Linked DNA regions of Homo sapiens. The protein of the gene in region 4 interacts with the protein of the main gene of each other region in a pairwise test. Each region holds a gene or a part of one and is shown on either strand. Other genes may lie near its edges.

What was found. The genes of interacting proteins can lie anywhere in the genome.
Region 1: the proteins of NSMF (region 4) and ARPC5L interact in binary tests that used the Homo sapiens proteins (3 or more experiments, as listed by UniProt).
Region 2: the proteins of NSMF (region 4) and UBASH3A interact in binary tests that used the Homo sapiens proteins (3 or more experiments, as listed by UniProt).
Region 3: the proteins of NSMF (region 4) and PTPN21 interact in binary tests that used the Homo sapiens proteins (3 or more experiments, as listed by UniProt).

The regions. Positions count from the first base shown.
Region 1 is NC_000009.12:124,875,182-124,878,233, forward strand, and holds the end of ARPC5L (actin-related protein 2/3 complex subunit 5-like protein), read left to right. Parts: intron 1-1,696; coding exon 1,697-1,759; 3' UTR 1,760-2,552; downstream 2,553-3,052. UniProt on the Homo sapiens protein: May function as component of the Arp2/3 complex which is involved in regulation of actin polymerization and together with an activating nucleation-promoting factor (NPF) mediates the formation of branched actin networks.
Region 2 is NC_000021.9:42,413,902-42,417,401, reverse strand, and holds part of UBASH3A (ubiquitin-associated and SH3 domain-containing protein A), read right to left. Parts: exon of another isoform or gene 1,094-3,500; intron 961-1,093; coding exon 791-960; intron 1-790. UniProt on the Homo sapiens protein: Interferes with CBL-mediated down-regulation and degradation of receptor-type tyrosine kinases. Promotes accumulation of activated target receptors, such as T-cell receptors, EGFR and PDGFRB, on the cell surface.
Region 3 is NC_000014.9:88,548,508-88,552,007, reverse strand, and holds part of PTPN21 (tyrosine-protein phosphatase non-receptor type 21), read left to right. Parts: intron 1-455; exon of another isoform or gene 456-772; intron 773-1,388; 5' UTR 1,389-1,590; coding exon 1,591-1,770; intron 1,771-3,500.
Region 4 is NC_000009.12:137,452,835-137,456,334, reverse strand, and holds part of NSMF (NMDA receptor synaptonuclear signaling and neuronal migration factor), read left to right. Parts: intron 1-700; coding exon 701-706; intron 707-1,027; coding exon 1,028-1,096; intron 1,097-1,105; exon of another isoform or gene 1,106-1,248; coding exon of another isoform or gene 1,249-1,589; intron 1,590-1,891; coding exon 1,892-1,944; intron 1,945-2,514; coding exon 2,515-2,604; intron 2,605-3,154; coding exon 3,155-3,279; intron 3,280-3,500. UniProt on the Homo sapiens protein: Couples NMDA-sensitive glutamate receptor signaling to the nucleus and triggers long-lasting changes in the cytoarchitecture of dendrites and spine synapse processes. Part of the cAMP response element-binding protein (CREB) shut-off signaling pathway.

The DNA.
Region 1 (3,052 bases), about 13 Mb from region 4:
GCCACCTGGCTTGCCTTGGGGTTCGATCAGCAGGCCAGATTTTCCAGAACAAACGTAGGACGGTCTGATAGGCGTGTGGGGTCAGAGGACGAGCCCCAACCTGGGACATGTCATCACTTCCCTCTCCCAAGGAAGCTCCTGGTAGGGACCTGCTGTCTGTGGTAATTGCAGTTACTTTTTTGCTTTTTAGCTGCCGATTTATGTCAGGCAAGACAGGGTGCCCTTGGTACAGGACATGTGGGCAGATAACATGGCATAGTAAGGTGGTCAGGGAGTCTAGGTAGGAAGGGGGCCTGCTGGTTGGTTGGGGCTTCATGATACTTGCAGTGGTGGAGGCAGCTGTTGGGGGTTCTTAGAAATAGAGTCCTCCAGCCAGCTCTAAGGGCTTCCTGCCCTGGCCTCAGCCTTAGCAGGCCAGAGTGAGCAGTGGGCAGAAACCTTGACCTCACTTAATATGGCCTTCGTCCAGGTGAAGCAGAAAGAGCTGTGTCTGCCCTTCGCTTGGGTCCGTGTGAGAGCAAGGCCTTTGGCAAGCCTGTGTCGTGCCTGTACCACTGGGGCTGCCTCCCACACCCTCCCCTGCACACCCCTAGTGCCGCAGTAAGCACGCCCACCATTAAAGCAGACCAGGAGTTACTAACCTGCCTGCCTTCCTCAGAGGCTCAGTGTTGAGTTGGAAGAGAGGGGTTTTACAGTGGGCCAGTCCTTAAGGTGGTGTGGGTGCTGGGCTGTGGTTGTGGCCTTAGGTCTGCTGGCGGGTGTGCTGCACCTCCTTGGCCTCCCCTCTCCTGGGCTCAAGGAAGTAAACAAGTCCTCTGTATGATGGGGAGGCCAGGACCTCTCGTCCCTTTAAGGCAGCTTGGTGCCTGCCAGTCACCTCAGCGGGCGGCAGTCAGTGGGCTTGTGTGCATCTGTAAACTCAGCACTTTGGGAGGCTGAGGCAGGAGGATTGCTGGAGCCCAGGAGTTCAAGAACAGCCCAGGCAATGTAGTGAGAACCCATCTCTACAAAAAAATAAACTAGGCTGGGTGCGGTGGGCTCACGCCTGTAATCCCAGCATTTTGGGAGACGGAGGCAGGCGGATGACCTGAGGTCAGGAGCTCAAGACCAGCCTGGGCAACATGGTGAAACCCCGTCTCTACTAAAAATACAAAAATTAGCCGGGGGTGGTGGCGGGCGCCTGTAATCCCAGCTGCTCGGGAGGCTGAGGCAGGAGAAGCGCTTGAACTGGGGAGGCAGGGTTGCAGTGAGCCGAGATCGTGCCATTGCACTCCAGCCTGGGTGACAAGAGCGAAACTCCGTCTCAAAAAAAATAAATTAGCCGGGCCTGGTGGTGCACACCTGTGGTCCCAGCTACTCAGGAGGATGGCTTCAACCCAGGACATCAAGGCTGTGCAGTGAGCTGTGATCTGGGCAACAGAGTGAGACCCCATCTCAAAAGGGAAGCTCGAGGGCTCTGCTTTGTGTGCTGGTGACAGTGTTCTCAAGCCAGTTCTGCCCAAGAGCCAACAGCTCTCGGGACCCCACGGCTCCAGGACAGGGCTCCTTCCCTAGAATGTGCTCTATCTCAGGAATCCTCTTTCGAGGATCTGTGACGGGATCTAGGTCAGGGAATGTCCCCCCTGTCTCTGGCAAGCCAGGCTCCCCTTGGCCAGCCAGGTCTCATCTGACACGTTTTCTTTTCCTGCCCCCACAGGCCTTAGCAGTAGGAGGACTAGGCTCCATTATAAGAGTTCTTACAGCAAGAAAGACTGTTTAAAAAAAATAAAAAGACTCATGTTACCTTGAGAAGAATTCTGGATGCCCAGGCTGGTGAAGAAGGGATTGACAATGGACCATCTTCCTAGGAACTCCCAAGTAAACTATTTCAGGACATGTATCTGCTGAAATGTATTTTATTTTCAAGGTGGAGGGGAAAATCGTCTGTTTCCTAAATCCTGTTTAGGATCTGATAGTCTATGCCTTTGTCTCCGAGTACTGCAGAACTGACATTTTGACGGTCTACCAGCGTGGCGGCTGGTGTTGGTCAGATGCACCTGTGTGCACTGGGGGAGGGATGGTTTGGGCAGGTGCAGATCCAAGGGCTGTGGTAAACGGGAGAGCTTGTGTTTTTGAAGTGGAAAAAAACCCAAGAGTTTGTACAGACATCCTGTCTTCCCAGAGAAGGTGGACACTCTTGGGCTCATTGTAAAGTGCCTGCTGCATCAATAAAGCTCTTGGCTTATTAGTCTATACATTGCGGTGTGTTTCGTGTATGTAAAAAAAAATGGTAATGAATGGGATGGTAATGAATGAGAGTTCAGTTGTTGTTCCGGAAACCCGATGTGGAAGGAGTAGACCTGTGTCCCTGTTGAGCCACCCCTGGGAGCGAGCATGGCAATCCACAGGCCCTCTGCCACAGGACGCCAGCCTCGGCCTCAGAGCTGCCGGCTGCTGCAGAGAGGTGTTTGCTGAATAAACTATTTATTGTTTCTTATTCCTTTGATTTGTATGTAATTAATTTTGGAGCTTATTTAATTAATTTAATAAAGTGCCAAACATTTAATAATTGATCTAGGCTTTAAAAGTCTTCAGTTTGTGGGATTGCACTTGGAATCTTTTGAGGGTGGGGCCTCAGATGTGCCTGGTCACGTCTCCTGATGCTGGGTTGGCTGTGCTGCAGAATCACTGCTGCATGGACAAGCTTTCTTTAAAGAACTAAACGTCAGAAATGGGGAGCAATCAATCAGCAAATAGATGGTATAATTTGGTTCCCCATAACCAATAACAGAGCTTCTCTGAAGGGCAAAAATGCTTTTCTTTCCTTTTCAGCACATGTGACTGCAGCTTGCATTCTGTTAAAGGTTAGGGCCCCATTCACACTCCAGAAGCTCCTCTGGGTCATACAGCCTTTGGATACAGACTTTGACCAAAGTGACACAGTCCTCCCCTCCACAGCTCTCCCCTCCTCAGTCCCTCTTCAGAACCACTGCAATTCTTGGGGGGGGTAGAATGGGGCTGTTGGCTTCATTAAATTACGTATATTTATTCACCCAAATCCAGTCTGGGAAGG
Region 2 (3,500 bases), on a different chromosome or scaffold from region 4:
CCCAGGCTGGAGTGCAACGGTACGATCTCTGCTCACTGCAACCTCCACCTCCCAGGTTCAAGTGATTCTTCTGCCTCAGCCTCCCGAGTAGCTGGGATTACAGGTTCGTGCCATCACGCCCGGCTAATTTTCTGTATTTTTAGTAGAGACAGCGTTTTGCCCTGTTGCCCAGGCTGGTCTCGAACACCTGACCTGAAGTGATCCACCTGCCTCAGCCTCCCAAAGTGCTGGGATTATAGGTGTGAGCCACCACACCCAGCTTCCTTTTCTAATATTGGAAATGCTTCTATTTTGTTGTCTGTGCATCTCTAACTCACATATAAAAGAATGCTGGTTGTAAATTGCACAAGAAAGAGAATGGCTTTAGAGAAGCAATAGAAATTTTCCTTGCTACTAACATATCTCCCTTGGAGGGCTCCAGGGGGTACATGCTGTCAGGTGAGTGGCCGTTCACTCATCTGCTTCTTTTTTTGAGACGTCTCGCTCTGTAGCCCAGGCTGGAGTGCAGTGATGCTACCTCCACTCGCTGCAAGCTCCGCCTCCCGGGTTCACTCCATTCTCCTGCCTCAGCCTCCTGAGTAGCTGGGACTACAGGTGCCCGCCGCCGTGCCTGGCTAATTTTTTGTATTTTTAGTAGAGACGAGGTTTCACCATGTTAGCCAGGATGGTCTCCATCTCCTGACCTCATGATCCGCCGCCTCGGCCTCCCAAAGTGCTGGGATTACAGGCGTGAGCCACCGAGCCCAGCCCATTCATCTGCTTCTTATGAGCCCCTGCTCAGCTCTCTCACCTGGTAGTGCACAAAGCGCATGTCTCGGGAGTAGAGTGCTGCGGTCCACTGGCAGCTGTGGCCCAGGGGGATGGCTCTGGCCAGCTGCTCCAGCGTCCTCTGGTGGTGGGGGTAGAACTTGTGGGCCAAGGTCAGATGCAGCTGTTTGGTGCAAGGCTTCACGGAGCAGTCTGTGAAATCAGGGAAACACAGAGGGTGCCAGGACACCGTTACCTAAATGTCTCCTTCCTCCGACCTCCATGCTTCCTCCACAAGGCAAGGGCTCTCAGAACTCAGAGCTCATTTGGCCCGCTCAGAACTCACATCATAAAGGAGATGGCTGGATCCCTGTAGATTTTTCCAGGAAGTAGGAAAGAGGACGATATGGAGATGTGGGTTCAGGGTCTCGGGGGCCTATCGGTTTGCAGGCTAGCTGCCCGAATGCACGATTCAGATGCACAGAGTAAACGGCTCCTCCATTCCCCGGGGTGTGCACGTTACCCAGTGGCCTGGACTTGCAGGCCCGAGCTCCAGTTCAACGGCTTTTTGTTTAATCGTAGAGTTTCAAGAAGAAAACTCTTTAGGCAACAAAACTATAAAACACACAGTGTCTTTAAGGTTCACCTTGTTTTGGTGAAGCAGGAAGTCCTGGGAGTGGTTGAGCCTCAGGTCTTTTTGGGTGTCCTCTGCCCCTGTGGCCCTAGCCCTCCCTGGTCCTGCCAGGGGCTCTCAGGTCAGTCTGAGCAGAGCAGCTGGCATCACCAAAGCAGCCAGGATCTGATTTCAGTTGAGCCACAAAGTATTTTATGTCCTAGGGAGGCGGTCTGTGTCTTGACGGGAACAACACAAACTTTGGTGTCAGATAGACCTAGTTTTAGGCTGCACTTTGCCCCCTTTTGCAGGGTGACCTTGACTGAGCCTCTGGGCCTGCCCAATTTCTGCTTCAGCAGCATCTGCTGGAGGACGGCAGCGCCTGCTCGCCAAGGCTGCAGTGGGAAATCAGCCTCCTAACCTAAAGTTTCCTGCTAGAGACGCCGTGTCGGTGCACAGACGTACCCTGCCCCCACTCCACGGCAGGGCACTTACAAACAGGATCTGCTCACCCCCTAAAAAAGGTCAAGGTTGATGCAAGCCTTTCCCTGGAGCCCCGAAGTTGGGGCTCACTGCTGTCTCCCACGTGAGAGGTGAGCCTTTAGAGGCAAATGGGAAGCTCCCACGGTCTCTAGGAAAGCTGGGGCACTGAGGCTGCACAGCCCAGAGCAGCATGAGTGTGTAGGTGGTGGGGAGCAGCATGAGTGTGTAGGTGGTGGGGAAATTCCTTTCCTGACTTTTGTTTTTAGCAGTCGGGGAGGACCGCCTTGCCATGCGAGTGAGTGTGGCCTGGGAAAGACCCACTGCAGGTTGCTGACGTCAGAGTGAGTCACACCGACTTCTGAACGGGTCCTTGCGTTTCCTTCTCTCTGCGGACCTGTGCCTATGGGCACGTTTCACTGGGGAGGACCAACGCGGGCAAGGGGGCCTCATGCATTTGCCCCAAGAGGGACCTCGGCCACTTCAGAGCAGTGACTGGTCACTCATCACTGAGAGAGTCCCCTCCACCCCCTCGGTGTCAGGCTGAGAGCATGGGCCATGGAAGGGCAGGACACAGCCTGCTTAGGGTCGGGGCGTAGATGTGAGGTCAACGCTGGCTCCCACAGGAAGTGGGGCTGCCCAGCATGAACCCAGGCAGCATGGAGCAGGACAGAGGTGGGTTCAGGTCCCTGCTCCGCCAGCCTGGTTAGGGGACTAGATTGGTTTCAAACAACAGAAATGTATTGCCTCCCATTTCTGGAGACTAGAGGTTCAAAATCAAGGTGTTGGCAGGGCTGTGCTCTCCCCGAAAGCTCCTGGGAAGGGTCCTTCCTGGCTTCTTCCAGTTTCCGGTGGCCCCAGGCGTCCCTTGGCTTGTGGCTACATCACTCCAGTCTCTGCCTCAGTCGGCACATGGCTTCTCTGTGTCTCTGTGCGGCCTCTACCCTTACGGGAACCCACCCTAATGCAGTGTGACCTCCTCCCAACCAATCGCATCTGCACAGGCCCTATTCCCAAGTGAGGTCACATTCCCAAGTTCCTGGTGGACAAACATTTTTAGGGGACACCGCTCTACACACCACAGGACCTTGGGCAGGCCCTTCACCCTTTGCAGCCTCAGTCTTCCTGTTTTTAAGATGCTGCCAATGAGGTTCACTGGGGGAGGGCCTGGGTGTGAAAGAGCCATCATTTGATAAAGGATACTAATCCACAAAGACCGGGGGCGACTTTCTAATTATTCAGCAGATTCGATCTCCAGACTCACAAGCTGCCATCCAAGTGGAAGCCCAGGATTCAGGGATGGATTTACAGGCCAGGATCTGTGCTTCATACATGTCTGAGCACAGACAGACACGCTCCCAGAGAGAGAAAGTGGGGAGCCCTCCCACCAAGGCACTGCGGCCTCGTCAGATTTTAGAGTCGGCAAATCTCAGCAATACTGAGTGCCTTCTGTGTCCCGGGAACTATGGCAGGATGGGCCACAGACTCAGGCAACATTGTTCTTGAAGAGTGAGAGCCCTCATTGTTTTGTAGAGAAAGAAAAAGAGACAGAGAGAGTGGACATGACTTGATTAAGGTCATGCCACTCATCAGGGACACAGAAAAAAATCACATCTTCTGACGTCAAGTCCACAATCCTTTCCACTAAACCCCAATGGTA
Region 3 (3,500 bases), on a different chromosome or scaffold from region 4:
AGGCAATCTCTGCGCAGAAGGAAGGTAGGGAACCGTCTCAGGACCCTGGAAATGTCCGGGATTTTGTAGACTCGTTTAGGGGGAAAAAACTAATCCAGCTGATATAAAAATCCCCAGCTAGTGCTCGCCCCAGAAACCATCAACAGGTCTGGTTAAAAACTGTTAGAGCCCGGCTTGGTGGCGCGCACCTGTGGTCCCAGCTACTCGGGAGGTTGAGGCGGGAGGATCGCTTGAGCCCAGGTGTTCGAGGCTGCGGTGAGCTACGATGGCGCCACTGCACTCCAGCCTGGGTGGCATAGCGAGACTTCGCTCTATAAAACACGTTGTAAGGAGCGTATTTTGAGGTCCTGTGGCTCCAAAGCGGGCATCCTATGGGGCCCGCCCAACCTCTCCACCGCCAGTAGGGCACGCGCTGGTCCCTTTAAATGTTCCCTTCGGGAGCCGAGGGACCGGTCCTTTTAGAGCGCGTCCGTCCAGAAACGCGGCTGCAGAAAGAGGGTTCCGGGGCCTCCGAGTCTACTGGTTGGCCTGGCAACGCCGCGTGCTCTTCCCAAGGGGAGGACGCGGGAGAAGCCGGGGCCTGAGTGCTCCAAGGCCCCGTGGGCTTCTTGGGTTTGTTGCCTCCGGCCGCTCATTAACTCAGGATGGCGTGGAAGACCTCGCCCGCCTCCCCTTCTGGGCCGCGGCTCCGCTTAGGTGAAGGCCTGTTTGGGCGTCCCCACCCTGGAGAGGGGCCGGGGTCTGGATTTTCAGAACTGCCACTCTTCTAGTGGTAAATGGATAACGAGCATTTGTAGGGTCTTTTATGATGTTTATCAGTAAATCAATTTGATGACGTAAATACTTCCACAAGCGCTTGTTAGGCACCTCACCGGGTTTGAATCACACACCTGCCTTTCTTAGTGGGGATTATTCCTCCCATTTGCCTTCAGGGTTAATTTTCTAAAGGGATTGGGACTGAAACCTAGCTCTTTTGGGGCCATTTGGCACTTTTCTCACTTAAGGACTAAAGAACTCTGACATTTGGAGTATTACAACCTGAAAGAGTTACCTATGAAAAAACAACACCTTATCCAAAATAGGAAGAGGATCACAATTACTAACTACAAAATTTGGGATTATAGTAGTGCTGGCTATTATCTCATTTAATCCTGAGGATGGCCCAGTTTGCTATCCCTATTTGTAGGATACAGTGAAGGGTGGAGTCTGACCCTGAGCCTAGCACAACTCTGAGATAAAATTCCACCCTGCCTTCCGGGTCCTGTTAGTGCCTTTTTTCCAGTGGAGAGGGACGGCTTGTTCTTTGGCCACAGCTTGACTGGCTTTTCTTTATACAAGCAAAGCCCAGCGTTACGTTTGCTTAACTAACGGCGTTCCTCTTTCCCCAGCGCTGGCGTCAATGCTCCCTTCCTCGGGCCATTGGAGACTCCGTTGCTTTTTAATGGCGGCAGCGGCTGCTGGGTGAGCAGCTGGAGGCCGGACAGTGTTCGTCCCATCCGGAGAGGATCGCTTTCTCCTGGCGTCACCAGCGCTGGGTTGGTGGGGGTAGCTTTTCCCTCTTTGCTCCTCCATTCTTGAAGAAAGAAGAAGATGCCACTGCCATTTGGGTTGAAACTGAAACGCACCCGGCGCTACACGGTGTCCAGCAAGAGTTGCCTGGTTGCCCGGATCCAACTGCTTAATAACGAGTTTGTGGAGTTCACCCTGTCCGTGGAGAGCACTGGCCAGGAAAGCCTCGAGGCCGTGGCCCAGAGGCTGGAGCTGCGGGAGGTAAGCCACCTAAAGACACTGCAGGCCAGGCGCGGGTGGCTCAAGCCTGTAATCCCAGCACTTTGAGAGGCCGAGGCTGGTGGATCACCTGAGGTCAGGAGTTCGAGCCTAGCCTGGCCAACATGGTGAAACCCTGTCTCTACTAAAAATACAAGGCCGGGCGCAGTGGCTCACACCTGTAATCCCAGCACTTTGGGAGGCCGAGGCGGGCGAATCACAAGGTCAGGAGTTCGAGACCAGCCTGGCCAATATGGTGAAACCCCATGTCTACTAAAAATACAAAAATTAGCCGGACGTGGTGGTGGGCGCCTGTAGGGTGTGGTGGCGGGCACCTGTCATCCTACCTACTCGGGAGGCTGAGACAGGAGAATCGCTTGAATGTGGGAGGCAGAGGCTGCAGTGAGCCGAGATCGCTCCACTGCACTCCAGCCTGGGCTACAGAGCGAGACACCTGCTCAAAAAAAAAAAAAAATTGGCTGGGCGTGGTGGTGGGTGCCTGTAATCGCAGCTACTGGGGAGGCTGAGGCAGGAGAATCACTTGTACCCAGGAGGTGGAGGTTGCAGTGAGCTGAGATCACAGCACTGCACTCCAGCCTGGGCAACAAACTCTGTCTCAAAAAAAATTAAAAATAAATAAAAAAAACACGACAGGCTTCTCTGGCCCGCATGCTGGCTGTGTGTTCTAGCCCACGGGCCACTCACTGTGTGTCCCTGGCTGGGATGTCTGAGTTGAGCCTGTAGTCCCCTCCTCATGAAGCAGGAATAGATTAGATTAAGAAGTCTCCCCTTGGGGTGCCCTATAAGAACTAATGGTTCTTATTTTGAATATGTTTATATTCCCCCTCTAAGGTAATCCAGAATCAAATGTGAATACACTTTGGGTTGTTCAAATTTCCATTTTCTAATATACCCCCAAAGGTCATCCTGATCTCTAGTACAGTTTACTGACTTCATTCTTTCTTTTTTGTTCATTTTAATTTTTTTAGAGTCAAGGTAGGTCTAGCTATGTTGCCCAGGTTGGTCTCAAATTCCTAGGCTCAAGCGATCCTCCCGCGATAGGCATGTGCCACCATGTCCGGCTCTTGACTTCGTTCTTTCAACATTCATTGAGTAAAATTCATTGACTATATTCTTACAGGCCAGATCGAGGTTCTAGAAACATACTGCCTGAACTCAGTTTGAGTTCTAGTTTCCTCACCATCTGCTTCTGTTACCTTGGGCAAGTTATGTGATATCTCTGAGCCCCAGTTCTCCATCTGAACCATGGGGATGACTGTGACACCTAATTCTCAGAGTAGCATAAGGTTGTAAGCTCTGCTAACTAGTCTATTAGAGTACCGATTGGGAGGTTTGCCCAGGAAACCCCTAATCTAGTTGGTAGGAAGTTATGGAGTACTCATGTATCCATATAATGTCTTAAATTTAAAATGTTATGCAAGGCCTGTGAAGAAAGGTCTCTAATTAAACCTAGGACCCTCCCTACCTTTGGCTACCTGGTTCTTGGGTAAGGGAAAGTTAGAGAAACTGGTTATTCCACCTAAAAAGTCAGGAATAGATGAACTTTGCTCCTGGTGACCATCCAATCACTTATATGATCACTCAGTACTGAAGATGCGTAAGTGCCAAGCACATACATACTTGGAAGCTCACCCTAGTGTTGTTGCCAGTAAGAAAACAGGCATGATGCATGCTGTGATAAGGGAAGTAGAGGGTGTGCTATAGGCCAGAGG
Region 4 (3,500 bases):
AGTCTCTGGGCCTACCAGGGGGGCTGCTTCTGAACAGACCCACGTGCCTATGCTGTGCCAGGCCTGCCAGGGAGGCCAGGGCTGACTGCTCTTCCCCTCCCATGGCTGGTGCCCAGCCCCCCCCCCCACACACACACAGTCAGGGGACCTGGCCCAGGGCTGCAGCTGATGAGCTCTCAGTGGGGTGTGGGGTGTGGCAGGTTCTCCTGCTCCTATCCACTCTCCTCAGCCTGTGTCTGCCCTCCCTCAAACCCCAAATAGAAGCCTACTTCTGTTTCATACGTGCCATAGGTCATCACAGTTTCAGGGTCCCCGCAGGGACCTGCTCCTCTCTGTCTTGACATACATTTGGCTTTTCTGTTCTGGGATTCCTTCCAGGGAAGTTCCCTTTGCTGCATTGGTCCCCACACCAAAGAAGTGTCCTGCCCGGGGGAGTCCACCCCACACCCAGCCTCAGGCTGCCTGGTCTCAGCAACCAGTCCTTGTGGCATGGGCTGCAGTGACATCAGCTTCCGTTGCCCATTCAGGGCTGGCCAGCAGTGTAGCCAGCATCCTGCTGGTGGCTGGGTTACCTGTGAGGGACCTATTGGGTCAGTGACAAGAAGGGAACTGTAGGGACCGGGTGGGGGCTGAGGGGAGGCCCGGGGTTGAGCTCACTGTGTCTTCTCTCTCACGCCATCCCTTCTGGCCCTGGCTTCAGCATCTCGTAAGTACCTGTATGACTTGGTGCCTAAGGGCACAGCTGTTGTCCCTGGGGAGACCCTCCCACCCCAAATAGGTTTGGGCAGGCCAGGGACCTGGGTCTTGAGGGAGTGCCGCTCTCTGCGGGCCTGGCTCCCAGCGGGCACCGAGGTCGCAGCAGGGCCTGCTGGGAGCTGGGCCTCGACAGGTGAGGCAGGCTGGGACTCCTCTGCCGGGCCCCGTGCCCCAGACGCCCTGCTGGGCCCTCTGCTCGCACCACTGTCCCGACGTCTGTGTCCCTCCTGCCTCCGGCCAAGGGCAGTGCTGACTCGCGGTGGTTTCCCAGGGTGTTCAGGGGCTACGCGGAGAGGAAGCGCCGGAAACGGGAGAATGATTCCGCGTCTGTAATCCAGAGGTAGGGCCTGCCAGCCACTCGCCACCAGGGTCCATCTCTGGTCTGTGCTGGCCTGGCCTGGGCCCCCTCGGCCCTGGCAGACCTGATGGGGGAAGGGTGGTGGCGACCACTGGCCTGGCCCTGCTCTGGGGACGTGGCAGGCAGGAGAGGCCATGTGGCCCGGGCTGCAGGAAAGCATCTCACCCTCAGTCCTGCACTCCGAGGGCACGTGTCTCTGTCTGGGCTGGGGCCAGCAGCAAGGCCCCCCTCCCCCACTCCAATCACACAGATGTGTCTGGGAAGCTTTTTTGCCCGTTTTGGATGTTGGGCCTTGGCAGGGTCCAAAGTTTGGTGGAGGAGAGGACCTGCCCCTGAGGTGGCTCAAGGACACAGAGCAGGAGAGGGGGCTCCTGCAGGCCCCCAGCCCGCCATGGGGTGGTGCAGACAGGAGCCCCGCTCTGCTGCAGCGCAGGCAGGCTGGATCCTCTGCCACATGGGCGTGGAGGCTCAGGGCGTAAGTCCCGGGCGAGGACGGAAGGTCAGAGCCTGGGAATGCAGCTCGGGAGGAGACTTGATCCAGAGCGCCAGGCACTGCACCTTTGTTCTGGAGTTGAAGGGGAGCCCTGGAAGGCTGTCGCGGGAAGAGCACTGGGTGGGATTTGCCTTTGGGTGGGAGGTGGTGCCAGGAGCCAGGGAGAGCACTGGCTTCCCACACCGAAGGGGTGAGAGTAGAGCCATGACCCGACGGGGGCTAGGTGGGCAGGGGCTGCCGTCACCCTCTCACGGCCCTCTTCAGCCCCTGGCTTCCTCCCCCAGGAACTTCCGCAAACACCTGCGCATGGTCGGCAGCCGGAGGGTGAAGGCCCAGAGTAAGACCCCGTGCGGCGGGGGTGGGGGGGCGGCGTTGCGCTTGGCTGGTTGGGGCTTTGCTTGCTGCTAGCTGCGATAAGAACGACCCCCGCCCCAACCCCAATCGGGCCCTGCCTCAGGCTCCTCCCCTTCCAGCCACTTCCCCAGCCCGGCCCAGGCTCCTCCCCTCCCAGCCACGCCCCCAGCCCGGCCCAGGCTCCTCCCCTCCCAGCCACGCCCCCAGCCCGGCCCAGGCTCCTCCCCTCCCAGCCACGCCCCCAGCCCGGCCCAGGCTCCTCCCCTCCCAGCCACGCCCCCAGCCCGGCCCAGGCTCCTCCCCTCCCAGCCACGCCCCCAGCCCGGCCCAGGCTCCTCCCTTCCCAGACTCCGCCTCTGGCCCTGCCCCAGTGTTCTCAGATCCTGCCCCTGAACCAACCGAGCCTCTGGTCCGTGTCTGCTTCATGTGCCTTAGACCCCACCCACATTAGCTTCCTCCTCTGCCCAGGGCCCCTGTGGTCCCCTCGCCTGGGGTCTGAGACTCCCGAGGCCCCGCCCCACCCGCTCGCTAATGCGGGTTTTGCTCTCTGCAGCGTTCGCTGAGCGGCGCGAGCGGAGCTTCAGCCGGTCCTGGAGCGACCCCACCCCCATGAAAGCCGACACTTCCCACGACTCCCGAGACAGTAGGTGCCCCGCACAGGCCCGCCCACCTTCCCCAGAGCCTCCCCTAGACCCCAGACCCCTGCTGGGGGTCCCCTGCCAGGGCCGCTGGGCTGCGCTTTTGCACTCCTGAATCTTGGTTTACCTGTTTGTGAGATGGGGACGCCCTCAGCATCTCCGATCGCAAAGGCGGGGCTAACAACGGCCGCGGCAGTGCTGGCCGGGGGCGCCTGTAGGGCCGTGCCCACCGCCACTCGCAAGAGGCCCTCAGGGGCAGGGGGCTGCGGTGCCCGCCCCCACTCCCTCCCAGGCGCCCGGCGGACTTGGCTGGAGCTGATGCCTGCACGCGCCTTCCACCGGCCTCGCACCAGGGTCTCCCTTCCCACATCAGGCCGCTGCCCAGTGGTGTCCACAGGCCTGTCCTGCCGGGCTGGCGGCGACCTCTGTATGGTCCTCCCACTTGCTTGGAGGACCCTCCGGGATGGGGCTTTCGGGCCCTGTGGGCCTTGGGGCCATGGCCAGGATAGGAGGTGCTGCCGGGCCTGCTGTCCTGGTGACCCTCTTGCTTCCCAGGCAGTGACCTGCAGAGCTCCCACTGCACGCTGGACGAGGCCTTCGAGGACCTGGACTGGGACACTGAGAAGGGCCTGGAGGCTGTGGCCTGCGACACCGAAGGCTTCGTGCCACCAAAGGTCATGGTGAGGCCCAGCCCGGGCAGTGCTCCTCTACACCCCGAGCAGGACTCCGCCCCAACCCGAGTCCAGCCAGCTCTGCCTGGGACCACGCAGCCTTCTCCAGCTGCCTGGGGGAGGGTGTCTCACAGGGCTATACCCTTGGGCTGCCTGGCAGCCAGAAGGTAGCCTCATGGGGGCTCCCACAGCCCCTTGGCTTTTGGATGGGCCTGGGGCCCCTGAGCAGC